2 linked regions of the Homo sapiens genome follow. The protein of the gene in region 2 purifies or fractionates together with the protein of the main gene of each other region. This does not show direct contact. Each region holds a gene or a part of one and is shown on either strand. Other genes may lie near its edges. The genes, in order: ARHGAP5 and KAZN.

Region 1 (7,553 bases), on a different chromosome or scaffold from region 2:
AGTAAGTGCTAAATAAAAGTAATCTGAACTAATGAATAACGAATCAGAGACTTAAAAAAAATTAATGCAGATCAGTTTTGTTTTTTTTTAAGGGGAATTTTTTTTTTAACTTTGAAGTTCAGGAGTAGATGTGCAGGTTTGTTTTAAAGGTAAACTCATGTCAAGGGGGTTTGTTGTTACCCAGGTATTAAGCCTAGTACCCATTAGTTATTTTTCTTATATTTAAATAATAAATATTTTTCTTATATTTAATTAAGTTAAATATTCTTATATTTAAATACAATACACTTAATACATGAAAATAGAAGCTGTCCTGGTTTGGGAGGGTGGGTTGTCATAGGAAGTCTCAAGGCATCTAGGAAAAAAACCCACAGGAATCCAAGGAACAGAGTTTGAAAACCAATTAAAGTTCATACTTAAAATTCTTAGCATTGAAGCATTTTTCTTAATTTCTAATATGGTTTTTCCTATTTCAATAAAATAATCGACAAAAGCCTGCACTTAAAACAAGAGCCTGATTACTCAAATTACTGAATGATGAATCTACTGATGTTTCTTCACAGGTCTTTTAGAAATTAAATTCCCTTGGTGTACTTTAAATATATAATACAAGTATCTTTTAGGAACATAGACATCACTAAAACAACACTGTACAATGCTTCTTCAGCCAATTATATTACTACACACCTTCTTGGTATGCAAAGAAAAAACTGTGGACCATACAACCCAAATAAATAGTTCTTAAAATAGTATCTATGGAAACTACAGTTGCGACAAAACTTATTCTGTAGCTACCAAGAAAATCTCTATTATGCCATTTCATATTTAAGAAGTGACCACTAAAGGCCAACACTCATCTTACATCCTGCCAATGTTGGTAAAGTTTAGTAAAGTCTTTATGAGACCTAACTTTTTCTTCAATTAAAAAAAGTGAGTTAGAAAACTTATTATCGCTACTTCAAATCCAAAAAAGGAATGCAAATACAATATTCATTCCTTAAATAATCTTAACTTTCAAGGTCAAAATAACTCTCCAAAAAAATGACTGTGCTAATATGCTTTTCAAACACAAATAAGAAGGGGAGACGGTTTTCAAAACATTTAGGATAAGTATCTTGTGACAGAATTAAGGTAATAATTTTGCAACACATTTTAAAAATTGCTAAGGTCGTTTAAATGGGGAGGGACACTACAAAACTCATAAAGATAACAGAATTCTGCCGCAATTCTTACATCAAAGTGTAACCCACCTCACTCCCCAGTACTCTTAATAATTAATGTACAAAGAATGGCAAAATAAGACATGTTGATCTAGGTTTAAAAACACAGCCTACACAAGACAACCAAATCAATAGTTATTTAATCATCTGTACCGTCTGATTCTGCTTTAAGTCAATTAGATCAATAGTGCTATTTCTTGAAAGTTACAAGCATAGGTATGCGCAGCCTTTCACTCCAGTGCGTTTAGTCATAAATTGCTCCAGTGTCTTTGCAAGTTTTTGGTGACACATACTTACCGCTCTTTGTACTACAGATAAAGGTAATGGAGGTCAATTAGTATACAAAGGATAGATGAAAGCAAAAAATGAGAAAGGAATTTAAAATGAAAGCAAAATCTTACTCAAGAAACTATCTAGTAGGTTACCTAGACGGTTAGTAATACTTATCTACAAACACTGAATAAGAATACCGTTTTATCGTATTACAGTACAAATAAACTAGAATTGACAGCAAAAGGTTTCATTAACGTATTTTTAAACCAAACATTATTCCAAATGTCTAATCGCTGCATCTAGATGAAATTTTTGTTAGGAGAACCATTTTAAGTGGAAATGTAGAGCAAGCTCCCATGAAGTGAACGAGATCCTTCATGCGGATAAACACCACCTAACATTCTAACTGAATACTGGTTCTGGATTTAAGTGGAATTGACAAACTCGCCCCCCGCCCCTACCTGTAGAAAGCAACATAAGCAAGTACTAGTAAATACAGCGAAGCATTTTGCTGTTTTACACCTGAACATTTAAAAAAAAATTCAGTTTCCTGCCTATCACAAAGGAAAAAATAAATGATCGATAAGAATTTAAACTTAAAACGTAAGCACAAACCCATCTATATGCCTATCTTGCTCTATCTCAAAATATTTGAATTCCCATTTATTAAGCGATGGCCAAATCCGAATTTCTATCACATGGTAGAAGTATAAGCGTCTCCCCTACAACTTTTTCGGGATTTTACTAAACGGCCTAATAACAGTTTGCCCTTACTTCCGTGCACCTTTCAACCTCAGCTACACCCCGAGCCTCCAGCTCTCTTGCATTTCTAATAACGCTGAAGAGGGAGGGTGAGAGGGAGTATTTCTGTGTGGATAAGTGCGCGCGCGCTCCCGCGCGGCTCCCCACCCCCACCCCGATACTTTTCTTTAGTGGAAAGAGAGGAAGAATCTGGAGGTTATTCTAGCGAAAACTCAGTATCAAAGCCTCAACCCAGTCGCAGTCAGCCCATAGGACTCTGGGCTCTGGATGCGCAGTGCAACTTCTCATATCTTACTCCAAGCTTCAAAGCAGATGGAAAATTGGTGAAGAGAACCCAGGGAGGAGTCGAGGAGATGAGGGAAAGTGAAAGGGCCGATCCCCCCTACAAGGCGTTTAAGTTTGCAACCGAGACTGTGTTTCCGCGAATCTGCACCCGCCCCGTGTACCCTTTCCAGGTGGAACTCGTTAACAGCAGCAACCCGGCCAACGGACACCGCCACCTCCCCTCTCGACGGACCACCCGAGACTCGAGCAAGTGAGGCGGCGGGCGAGAGCGGACGCCTGGCGGGGCCGGCGATCCCCGGCCAGCATCAGGCCTCCGCCGACCCTGGCCCCGTCACCTGTGGAGAAAGCACCCCCTCCCCCGGCCTCTCTGCCCTTCACGCCGAACGTATCCCTAACGCTGCAGCTGCTGCCCGCCCGGCCTGCGAAAACCGAGCGCAGCGCCAGGCTCCCCTCGGCGGCCGCGGGGCCCCAGCCCCTTCAACTGGTTACAACCGGCAGCGGCGACCGAGCGGGGCAGCTAGCCGCAGGAGGGTCCCCGTCCGGGAGGGGGCAGGCAGGCTTGGAGGAGCGGGGTCCGCAAGGTCCTACCTAACAACGTCGGTCTCCTCCGTCTCCTCCTCAACGGCAGCGGCCCCGGCGGTGGCGGCGGCAGCGACATTCCTGGGGACCGCTCCCGCCGCCGCCGCCTCCTCCTCCACTCTCCGCTCGCCTCTCTTCCTCGGCGCGCTCACCGAGCGGCGCGTCCCTTCAGCCACCTCCCCCCGCCCTCCCCGACACACACGCCCCGAAACCCTGAGCCCCACGGCTCCCGCAGCCAGCTCACCCACCCTCCCTCCCTCCCTCCCCGCCACCAGCGGCGGCCCGTCCCTCCCCCCTTCCCCAGCGCCCGCCGCCGCGCCGGGCTCAGTAATGGCGGCCACTCGGGCTCCCTCGCGCTGACGGATTTCTCTCCCTCTCTCCCGAACTTTACCTCAGCATCTCTCCCGGCGCGCGCAGCCACACACCCGACCGGGGGCGGAGCGGCGGCGCGGCGGCGCAGCCTGGACGGGACGCGCGCGCGCGCGCGAACCCGCGCTGCCCTCCCCACAATCCCCCGTCCCCGCCCCTTCACCTCGCGACGCCTCCCGCGCCGCGCACCCGGCACGGCCCCGCCCCTGCCCTCGTCTCCCGGGAGCCTGGGAAGGCGCGAGCTATCCAGTCGGAGGGAGGGGGACGAGCGCGCGGGGCCGCGTCCTCGCTCGCGTCCCCGCTCCCTCCTCCCCTCTGCTTCTCCCTCCCCTCCACTCCCCCATTGGCTTCTACCCCTCCCCCTTCTTCCTCCGCCTCTCCCACCATTGGTTCCCTCCCCTACTCCATTCCTTCTCACCTTTTCCCTTTTACCCATTGGCGTGAGTATTTTTCCTCAGCTTCCCTCTTTCTCCGTATTCTGCTCCTCCTCAGTCCCATCCTCCACGCTTTGGAAGCTACTGCCTTACTGCCCGGAGCGCCGTCGTCCCCGAACCTCCCCTGCTTCTCCCTTTCCTTCTGTTCCGGTTTCTGGTCGTAACTCAAGAGCAAACCACCGTACTGCAAAGGAACCAGATATTGTGCTCGCGGTTCCAAACCGGGCATGGGCACCGAATGCTTCTCGATAAATCCCCTTATGGTCTCTGAGCATTAAAGAAAGCAAGGGAGGAAAACATGCGCCCAAGCTCGTTCGCAGGAACATGTTCGCGTGTCTGCGCCTGTGTGCGCAGCCAGTTTTCTGGCTGAGGATCGCTCGCCAACTACAGACATCACCCGCCCAGGACCCGGTGCCACACTCACCCAGAAGACGAAACTCCACAGGAGCGAGAAGAGGAGTCCATTTCTCCGTCGGCTCGGCACGGCACGGGGATGCAGGCCCCTGATTCAGTACGTTCTGTGAAAGTGGAGCGAGAAGCCAAGACGTGGATCGAGAAGCCCCGTGGGGCGGGTCTCAGGGTGGCCCAAAAGACCCCTGTTCACGCCACTACCAGCCTAACTTTAGGAACTGTCGTCCACCTGGCTTTTATTATACTGCCTTAAACATATTCACTTTTTTGAGACTCTAGAAATTTCACAAGTTTTGGGGTAGAGCACACTGGGCTTTGGGTGTGTTTCTCATGAGGGCACTGACGCTGAATGGTGCAGTGAGAAAGGACGGTAGAAACCACTGCCTTTGCTTTTACCATTGAAGAAACTGAGGTCCTGTGACTTTCCCGAGGTCATCGGAATCTGCCTTGCACAGGAGACTTAAAATAGTTGCCAGCAGATAAAAGAATGAGCAAAACCACATCTACTCCAATTTGTTAAGTCTGAAAGAAAGTAATTGAGGGGGGATTCCTCTTTGGGGAAATATTTATTTCCTGCATTGAAAATAGTTTAATGTTAGTAAACATATAAAAAGTATTTTAAATTCAAGTTATTCTTTATTTCTTATGTTACATAAGGTACTGAAGTTAGCCAAGGTTGCTTTTGTGTTATAATGATGCAGCTGCTGCCAACCAGAAGTACATTTACGGTCTGTCAGTAAAGAAAACAAAAACTGCCTGTTGGTAAAAATCTATTAGAAAATATTTGTCAGTAAATTTGTCACAATATTCCAGCAGAAGTTCTGTTCGTTTTTCCGTCTTCCTGCCCTTCATATTTCTCAAAGGTAGACTTAATAAAGGTAGAAGAGACATTTCTAATTTTTCTATATATCTCTTGCTCCCTAATTTCTAAAAGGCATAACTAAAATGCTTTATTCGAGCCACTCCCTTGCATCTGAACCCTACCTACCAAGTAGGTTAAGAGTAGGTTAGGTAAGGTCTGTAGCTACTTCTTTCTTTCAGTTACAAATTGTAGGTGGGAAAGAAGGATGCGGAAGGAAACTTGCAAGGAAAGCAAACAGAAAGAAAAAGAAGTAAAAAAGGAGAGAAGGGAATTTGGTGGGTGGTCCAACCATCAAAATGTGGTACTAATGCCATAGGTATCTACACCACTTATGTAAGTTGGAATGTTGATGCATTCCAACGCATGTTTTTATCTTTGTACTGAAAGCCCTTAAGAATACCCGAAGTAAACATATAAAAAGTATTTTAAGTTCAAGTTATTCTTTATTTCTTATGTTACGTAAGGTACTGAAGTTAGCCAAGGTTGCTTTTTAGTGTTATAATGATGCAGTTCAAAGTCATAACCTGAATAAGATGTTAAGTACTATAGAGTGTACACCCTAAAGATACCTTAAAAATTATGTCCTAAATAATCAGAAATTTTAATAATCATGGACATGTATCAACATAAACCAAAGCCAAATAAATCAGGGCTTCTAAAGAAAACGTTAAAAAGGTGTAATGTTCAGTTATAGGACATGATACTGGAGGCAGGGAAGACTTGAAATCTCATTTATTTTCTTATAATGAAGACACCAGAAGACGTTAAAAAAAAAAAAAAGATCACGATTTCCAAACAATGATTTTCATAGTCGACATTATTTTCAGTTCTTTATCTTGATTTAGGGAGCCTGGAAATTTAGGACTTCGTTTCTTATTAATACTAATAGTCTAAAGGTGTTTACCAGTACAAATAAGTTATTGTATGTAATTTGCTCTTCTCAAAAAATAGAGTTTTCTGTATCAATAAAAATCTGAAATGGGGGCCACAATTCTGTGGCTAATAATGCCTATATATCCATAAATAAAAGGCATCAAAGAGCAGGAGGAAAAATATGTAAGATGGCATCTTTAAAAATTGATCAGGAGCCAAGACTTCAGAGAAAAAGCTTTAAAACACCCACCCTCCCTACTCAAAAGGATAATTTTTAAGAAAATAGGTAACTTATTTACACACACACACATGCGCGCGCACAAATATCGGACAGAAATGGAAATGGAATAAATATTAACAAGCCCTCTCAAATCAACTACTCTTCTTATCTAGAATAAAAAAGTTAAGCCTCTCTTCTGCTGTACTGGATAATTAAAATAACTGGACTCTTTGTTCCTCGTTTACTTTGAAAAAATTAGAATAAGATTTGTCAGGCATTTTCGGTTTTTAATTTAAATTTTCTTCATAAATCTCTAGTTCTTCATCACATCCTAATAAAGTATTAATATGCATGGTCTTTTTGAGATCAAAAGACATGACAGTCATAAAAAAAGTTATCATAATTCCAGCTTCTACCATTAGTGGTAATACTGCAATATTCAAATGTTTCATATGTTGTGGCTTCAAAAGAACTTACCCTATAGAGGCAGCTACACCCCCTGCTGGAAATCTTTGATCATAACAACTTTGGCTTCTGTAGTCTCAATCAGGAACATATGAAAAGCCAAATAAAGGGCCTTACCACTCATGACAGAATTGACCAATACTTTAGCCTGTCTGATACAAGACAGGCTTTTGGAGAACAACCTATGTCAGAATATCACCTTGATTACAGACAAAATACACAAAGAGGATGGAGAATAATGATGTAAATAGCTAAATAGCCAAAACACTTGTAAGATATTTGCTTAATTTCCAACTGTATTTCCACTCTTTACCTTATCCCCATCTCCTGCCTAGACTTCTCTTTTTCTCTCTATCTCATACAATTAGGCCTACTTGAGGGGAGGAAGAAGGCAGGATAAGATGGGATATTAATCCTTCAGCTAGGCAAATAATGGTGTATCAATCCACAGTAGCCATTTGCTGCATTAAGGTGCTTAAGGGCTTTCCCCAAATTTGTTTTATGGGTACCAATGATATTTTCAACATGAAGAAAAGGTGCTAATTATGTCTTGGCTGTTACTGTAGAAAATATTTTGACAAGAGTTAAGGTAATTGTGAGCATGGGACTGGAACAGGAGGAAAGTAGTGCATTGACCTTCTTGGCATTTTGTTCCACACAGCCTTGTTCTGTTGATATTCCAGAACTGTATTTTCAGACTGAAATCCCAAAGATGGTATCAGAGTCTAGCTTTAAAATGTCATGCTCATGAAACTCTAGTCCTAGGACATAACTGAAATACTGAAAGCAGCACACTATTT
Region 2 (7,276 bases):
TAAATACACCATGTTTAAGTCAATCAAGGAAAATGAACGAATTCATTTGTTGCCGCTGACCAGAAGTCTGAGACCTGGCTGCGAAGATGATACAACGGGTGAGCTTACTTTAAAAGATGCAGGTATGCCTGTCCTGAAATTCACATCTTTTTTTTTAACTCTCTTTGAAAAGAGGACAGAAAAGCTATTATTCAAGATCTAAACCCAGTATCATCCACATCTTCCTTCTCCTTAAGACGCGCTCTTTCTCTGGGGGAGAAGGTCCCAGGTAGTAGCTGTTCTCTGCAGTGTCCAATTCCAATCTATCCAAACAGTTGTACTTTTTAATAATCTATCACAGCCAGTTTTAACCCCTAGTGGTGAAATTAGTGTATTTTCCAGCCTGTTTTTATTACGTATTACCATTGTCATGCACATCTGTGAAGGCTCCTGTATTTGTCACTTCATTGTCTATTTTTCCATTACACCCATCTAGACCTTTATTAGAAAATTATGTTTTCATGTCAGTTATACCTATGAGGCTGTGAGTCCAAGATAACTCAGTCCCCATCTTATTAAATCTGTGGTCTCTGGGCCTATGTGCCCAATCTCTCACAATAGATGGAGACAGAGAGAAGCGAGGAAGAAGAAAGGAAGAAAAAAAGAGGAAGGGAAGGCGTTAAGCAAAATAGCAAAACCGTCCTACTGGCATGTCTTTGGGCTACCTGATAGTGACATCTGGATATTCTCGTCTTAACGAAGCGAGCAGATTTCAGGGTCAGTCAAACGTGTGAACCTGTGTTCTAATCCCCTGTTTTTCTGTTCACTAGTGGACTACTTTCCAGAGCTTGGAAAAGCAACTTAACCCTTCTAAGCTTCAATGTCTTCATCTGTGGAATGGAGAGGATAACAATATCTAACTCTCTGTAATATGAAGGTAAATTGAGGAAATGTTTGTTGAGCTCATCACAGTATCTGGGAAAGCCTCAACGAACACTGGCTATTGCTCTTATTGCCCCCTTGGATGATCTCAAAAGTCACTCTGCCTCCCCAGTTCTGATCCTGGAACATCCCTTTTGCTAAAAATGAGCCATAACCCCACTAAGAAGCTCTGGGGTCCACTGTTCCCTTTCCCATAAAGGTAGGAAAGTCAAGTCCCCTCTGCGATTCTCTTTGGTCACAGCCCAGCAGTGAGGCAGAGAGAAGAGATTCTCACGTTTGAACATGGCTCAGCACTAAGCAGTCCTCTTACCTCTGGCCAGACAGGAGTCCCTGCTGGCTACGGATTCTTCAGAAGTGACAGAGCATATTTTGTCCAGCAGAACTCTGAGGATTGACGATGAATGAGTTAGTGTCTGACATGCAAATCCTAATTATAATTGCCACAATGCCAACATTAGAACAATAACAGTTTCTTGGGCAGTAATGGGAAAAAGGATGCCAAGCTCCAGAGCATCCTGGTGGAGACGCCAGGCAGTCTCTGGAATCACACTGGCTTGTGTTTGTATCCTGGCTCTGCCACTTGCTAGCTCGGTGACCCTGGGCAAGTCATGTGACCTTTGTGTGCCTCAACTTTCTCATCTGTAAAATGACAAACACTGTACTTACCTCATAAGGTGGTTTAAAGGATTCGTTGAGGTATTATAGGTAAAGAATTTGAAACAGTGCTTGTTATATGGTATGTAAGCACTCAATTAAAATCATCTATCATTAAATCAATGATCCTCATGATACCATGTATAAAGTAGACCAAAGTCCACACACCCCATCATTTAGTATTCACCCATCCATCCATCTATTCATTCAGCAAGTATTTACTGAGCTCTTACATTATGTACAAAGCACTGCTCTAGGTGGTGAGGATACAGTAAAATATAGATAAAACTCCCTGACCTCACAGAGCTGTCATTCCAAGACTAACAATTGAAGTCTCCCCTAACACCACTGCATAAAAAGCAGTTCGCAACCAGGGATAATTTTGACCTGAAGGGGACATTTGGCAACTTCTGGAGACATTTTTAGTTGTCACAACTGGAGTGTGAAGGGTTCTACTGTCATCTAGTGGGTAGAGGCCAGGAATGCTGCTAAATATCCTACAACACACAGGACAGCCCCCTGAGAACACAGAATTATCTGCTCCACATGTCAATAGTACTGGGGCTAAGAAACCCTAGCATGAAGGTATCTGTTTGAGGTTAATAAGTCCTCTGTTGGGCATGGTCTTGGGGTGCTAGAGGCTACTGAGGCCACAGAGAGAGAACTCAGGCAAAAGAAAAGACATGGGATGGATGGAGAATAAGGCTGCCACAAGACTCTGGCTTTGCCTGGACTCATCCTTCCCAAGAGAGATGAAACACACGAAGTCCAAGAAATTGGAGGCTCCAAGTCCAGGATCAAAATAGTCCTTTTTATTAGTGATAAGTGGCCCCTGGGCTGCCAGTCTTGCAAACAGAATCCAGTCCCTTCTTTGTCAGTTGATGGCTGAGAGGCTGGTTGATTGCCTAACTCTCAAGCATAAGACTTTACCGTAAGGACCCAGGAACTACCACCAGTCTAGGGAAACAGGAGTTTAATCAGGAGTAGAGACAAGGCTACAGCTCCCTGAACCTCCCTAATGCAACAAGCCAAAGGATGCTTCTGACTTAGGAGGCAGGGCAGAGAAGCATACACAGGTTTAAACAGCAGAGAGACCTAGTGGGTTTGCATTCCTGGCTCAGTCATGTGGCAGTTGAGTGATCCTGGATGTCAAAGTGGAATGAATAAGAACACAGACTCTAGAGCCAGAGCTTGGTCACTTCCTGACCATATGCCCTTTGGCAAGTAAATGTGTCATCTCTGTGCCTTAGTTTTCTCCTATGGAAAATGGGTACGAGCATGGTACCTGCCCAATAAGTCATTATGAAGACTGAATGCATTCCTGAAATGCATTAATCCAGAAAATCACTTAGAACAGTATCTGGCTCAGAGTACACACTATGCTGAAGTCTGCTACTATCATCCCCATTGTAGTCATCACTATCTCACTGCAAACAAGTGATTTAGTTTCTCTGAGACTCAGTTTCCTCTTTTGAAAAACGGGCATTACATAGTTGACCTGGAAGAACATAGGTTTGAATTGTGCAGGTCCACTTATATGTGAATTTTCTTCCACCTCTGGCACCCCTGAGACAGCGAGACCAACCCTTCCTCTTCCTCCTCCTCCTCAACATGAAGATGATGGGGATGAAGGCCTTTATGATGATCCACTTCCACTTAATGAATAGCAAATATATTTTCTCTTCCTTATGATTTTCTTAATATTTTGTTTTCTCTAGCTTACTTGATTTCTCTACTTAATTATAAAATACATAATACATGGGGCATAAAAGTATGTATAAGTCAACTGCTTATGTTATCTGTTAACTGTTTATATTATGCTATGTTTACGTTATCATAAGGCTTCCGGTCAATAGTAGGCTAGTAGGAGTTAAGTGTTGGGGGAGTCAAAAGTTATAGACAGATTTTTTACTGTGCTGGGTGGGGGCCAGCTATAGTTGTCACCTCGCTGGCCTCAGGATTCAATAATGCATGTTAAGCGCTTGCCAGGGAAGTTGATATATTGTAAGTGCATATTATTATTTATTAAAAAGTTTGACCAAAGCAATGAAACCAGTTCTCATTTACTGCTACATTAAACTATTCACCTTGACCAAAGAGAAAGAAACTACAGGCTTCAAGATGGTCCCAGAATCCCCAGCGTCTTGTGGCATGCCCAAAAGGTAAGTTCTGAGAATAATAATAGTGAGGTATGCAAAGATGAGTGGAGAATATCAGCTTCTTTAAAAGGGGCGCTCTGTTCTTAATGACTCATTACTTCACACAATCTGTAGAGCAGAGGTAATATTGGGAATGGAAGGCCTTTACATCCCCACAAAGGTAACATAGCGCTTGCTGTGGTGGAAGAGGACAGAGGAGAAGGGAGCTGGGCAGGACACCTCCTCTCCCCAACTTCTCTCCCCTCTCCAGCCTGACTGGAGAAGTGGGCAGAGGCCCTGGGGCTCTTTGCTTGCAGGACTGCCTGTTCCAAGCTCCATCTGAGCTCCTGTGCTGAGGTCTCAATTCATCAGAAAGTAAAGGGGCAGGGACCTTTCAGAAGCCTGACCCAAGGGTCTGACATGACCCAGCCAACAAAGCCCGCAGAATAAATTTAGCCCCAATGATCTTGTACCACACAGCAGCCACCTGCTCAAACAGTTGTTCTTGCCAAACTCATTAAAACTATGTTCAGCTTCTTTCATGTTTCCAGCAGCCTAGGACTCCAAGGGGGTAGCAGGAGTGCCCACAGAGCACAACCTCGCCTCCACCACTTGGATCAAGGTTGCATCAAACAAGCAAGAATGTTCTGGTGTCGTGCAACCACACGGGGAGGAAGAAGGCGTTCCTTTCCCTGATCTTCTTCCAGCTTCTCCACAACTGAGATGGGCCTGGCAGGGGATTTGGAGGGTGGTGGCAGGGGAACTGGAGAGTGGTGACAGGGGTCAGCAGAACTCTTAGCTGCTATGAATCGTCAGGTATGATCTGCCCCTGTGGATGGCCACCCTGTTGGCTTCGGGAAAGATGTCTTTTCCTAAATCATTCTTTCTGAACCCACTATGCCTGCAATTCAAGGCACCAAGGCAGTGCAATGACTGCTGGCGGTGACACTCCTGCCATATTTTGTGCTACTCACCCTAATATGCAGCCCAAACACTGAGACCTATTTCCACGTGCAACATCACTTAAAAACCCATTCTCTGGGCTCAGCAGGCAGAACCCCCTGATATATGGCAGGGGGTAAGAAGCCAGGGACCAATGTTCAGGCAAACCATTAAGGTATGGAAAGAACAGAGGAGTTCGTGTTGATTTCACTGTCCTTACCTACATAGCCCAGGAATGAATATATAGATTTATAATACATAAAGAAAACATGCAGTGAATGTGGCCAAATCCCAAGCTTGACCTTCTGGGCCCCATATGATATGCACGGTGAGCAGGCAAAGTTCCAATGAGCTCTTGCCACCTGCCAAGCCCATCTGCTACAAACACACTGGCAGCCAGGAAGTCACACATTATAACCCTATAGGATTCCTAAAAAGTGCCAACAGTCTTCTTGAGGAGTAAGAGGGTAAAGGGATGGAGAGAGGGCCTATCATGCCTTACCCTGGAAAGATATGTGACCAGGCTCCTGTTAGATGAGTCAGGTCAGCTCAGACTTCTGGGGTGCATCAAAGAGGTGTTGGAAAACCACTAAAAATCATGAAGTGCACAATGGAAGCATGAAATTAACCAGAATCAGAGACTTGACTTAAGAGGTCCTTTGAAGGCATTTTCCAAAGACAATGGAAAGATAGTAAATAATCCCCAATCAATAAGTAATTTCAACCACACTGTACTGATCTGTAAGTAATCTCTTTGTGACCACACATGACAATTTTCAGGGAGAAGACTGAATCCCCATCCCATGACAGGTTAGGAAAAGACACACTCTATTTTAACCCCTTGATCTGGCTGGAAAACCATGGCGCAGGCTACTTGCTGAGCTCTGTAACTTAGTGGCAAGCTAACAGAAGGCCCGAGATTCCCCAACATTTTGTTCCATCCTCTCTGCCATTTGAAAATTCTCTTTCTCAAAAAAGATAAAAGTCTACTTAGGAAAACAAGAGCAGAGGCAGAATGAATTGAGAAGGGGATGCCAAAAGACAGAACTTACTTTGCAAAGCGACAGTGTCTAGCGTCTCCACAGACTACTCACACATTCAATTCACTCCAAAGGTAATTTATACTTCACGAAAGAGTTTCCAGTGTTGTAGTAATGGTAGATGAGAGCTGTCAGGCCTTAAGTAACAGCCTATTTTAATGCCTGGAGAGAAAAATACAACTTGCACGCATTTATGGAAATGTACAAAGGTACAGGAAACCGACCCTTGCCTCCATCCCCTTCTAACAAATGCAGTAGGCAGGAAGTCCTCCACACCAAAGAAAGATGCTATCAGCACGTCCACTTGCATAGGAATACAAATACAATTATTTCTTTAACAAAGAAAACTAATGACAGTAGGCATACATCCTACTGGGCATTAAGTATTTTGTTATATACAGTTAACACCTATTTGAATTGGGTACCATAGCACTTAATTGTTTTGTTCTATGCATAGCAAAGCAACCAACTGAATCTAATATTAGTCATTCATCAGCTGATAAAACTTTTTCAGAGAAACAAACTGCTACATTTTCCCCTCAAAGAACAGCAAGCATTTTAAACACATTTTCCCAGAGATGTTATGCTGAGGAAAACAGCTTAGAAATGTTACTTTAAACAAATCCCTTCTCTGGCTACCAACAACAAGATGAATTGGAACAAATGCTTGGCTCTGTTCTTTCCAAGCCTCCTTCTGTCCACCTGTCAAAGGCTGCCGTGACCCCACCGACCCAAAAGGCAGCCTCTGGAGCTCTGAAATGTGTCACCCTGCACGGACGCCCTCTGCACTGTACGCCAGCATTCTCATTAAGGATTATCCAACTCAGTTGCAGGAGGGAGAGACAAGATGGGCTGGCTGCCAGGAATTCTTTCAACACAGATTCCGAAAGAATATCCTCCGAAGTGCCGAAAGCCCAGATTTTCAGCAGTTCACTTTCTAGATTCTGTTACATAGCAACCATGCCAGCTCACAGGGAGTACCAACCAAGTTAATATTTTGTTTAAATGACACACTGCATTAACCCGCTAGGAAAACCCAAATTTTCTTCATCAAAAGGGGATACCAACCTACCTACTGCCCGTTGTCATCCCTGGAACAAAACAGCCAATGATGGATTGATGAGTTTGCTTCATTCATTTAAAAAAAGAATTTAAAAAACAAAAACAAAAACATTTGAAAATGAATCTAACAGTCTCTTGGCAGAGGAAGCAAAAGGTGACTCTTTCCCAAAACCATTTGTACTAATATTGTTAAAGTTACATTAGCATGCATTTAATATGTGCATAATGCCCTTTCGTTAAAAGATGACTTACACGGTTGCATTTTGAAATGCAAAGATACTCGTTTTATTCAAAACCTTGATTTGAAAACTGATAACTCAATAGCACTTAAACACTCTTAGGGTCTGGGCCCATTGAACTGCACCAACACAGACAAAATGAAAACACAAGACTAATTTGGAAGAACAGTCAGAAACCCTGAGGAGCTGAGCCTCTGGGAGCCTCCCTGGAGGTGTATTACGAAGAATCAAGTGGAACCCAATCAATTGCACTTTAAAATTAACTTGTGTGAGAACTCAA

What was found.
Region 1: the proteins of KAZN (region 2) and ARHGAP5 purify together in Homo sapiens (affinity purification with mass spectrometry; 2 studies listed by BioGRID and IntAct, with this or other methods). This does not show direct contact.

The regions. Positions count from the first base shown.
Region 1 is NC_000014.9:32,073,011-32,080,563, reverse strand, and holds the start of ARHGAP5 (rho GTPase-activating protein 5), read right to left. Parts: upstream 3,261-7,553; 5' UTR 3,129-3,260; intron 1-3,128. UniProt on the Homo sapiens protein: GTPase-activating protein for Rho family members.
Region 2 is NC_000001.11:14,601,586-14,608,861, reverse strand, and holds part of KAZN (kazrin), read right to left. Parts: intron 1-7,276. UniProt on the Homo sapiens protein: Component of the cornified envelope of keratinocytes. May be involved in the interplay between adherens junctions and desmosomes. The function in the nucleus is not known.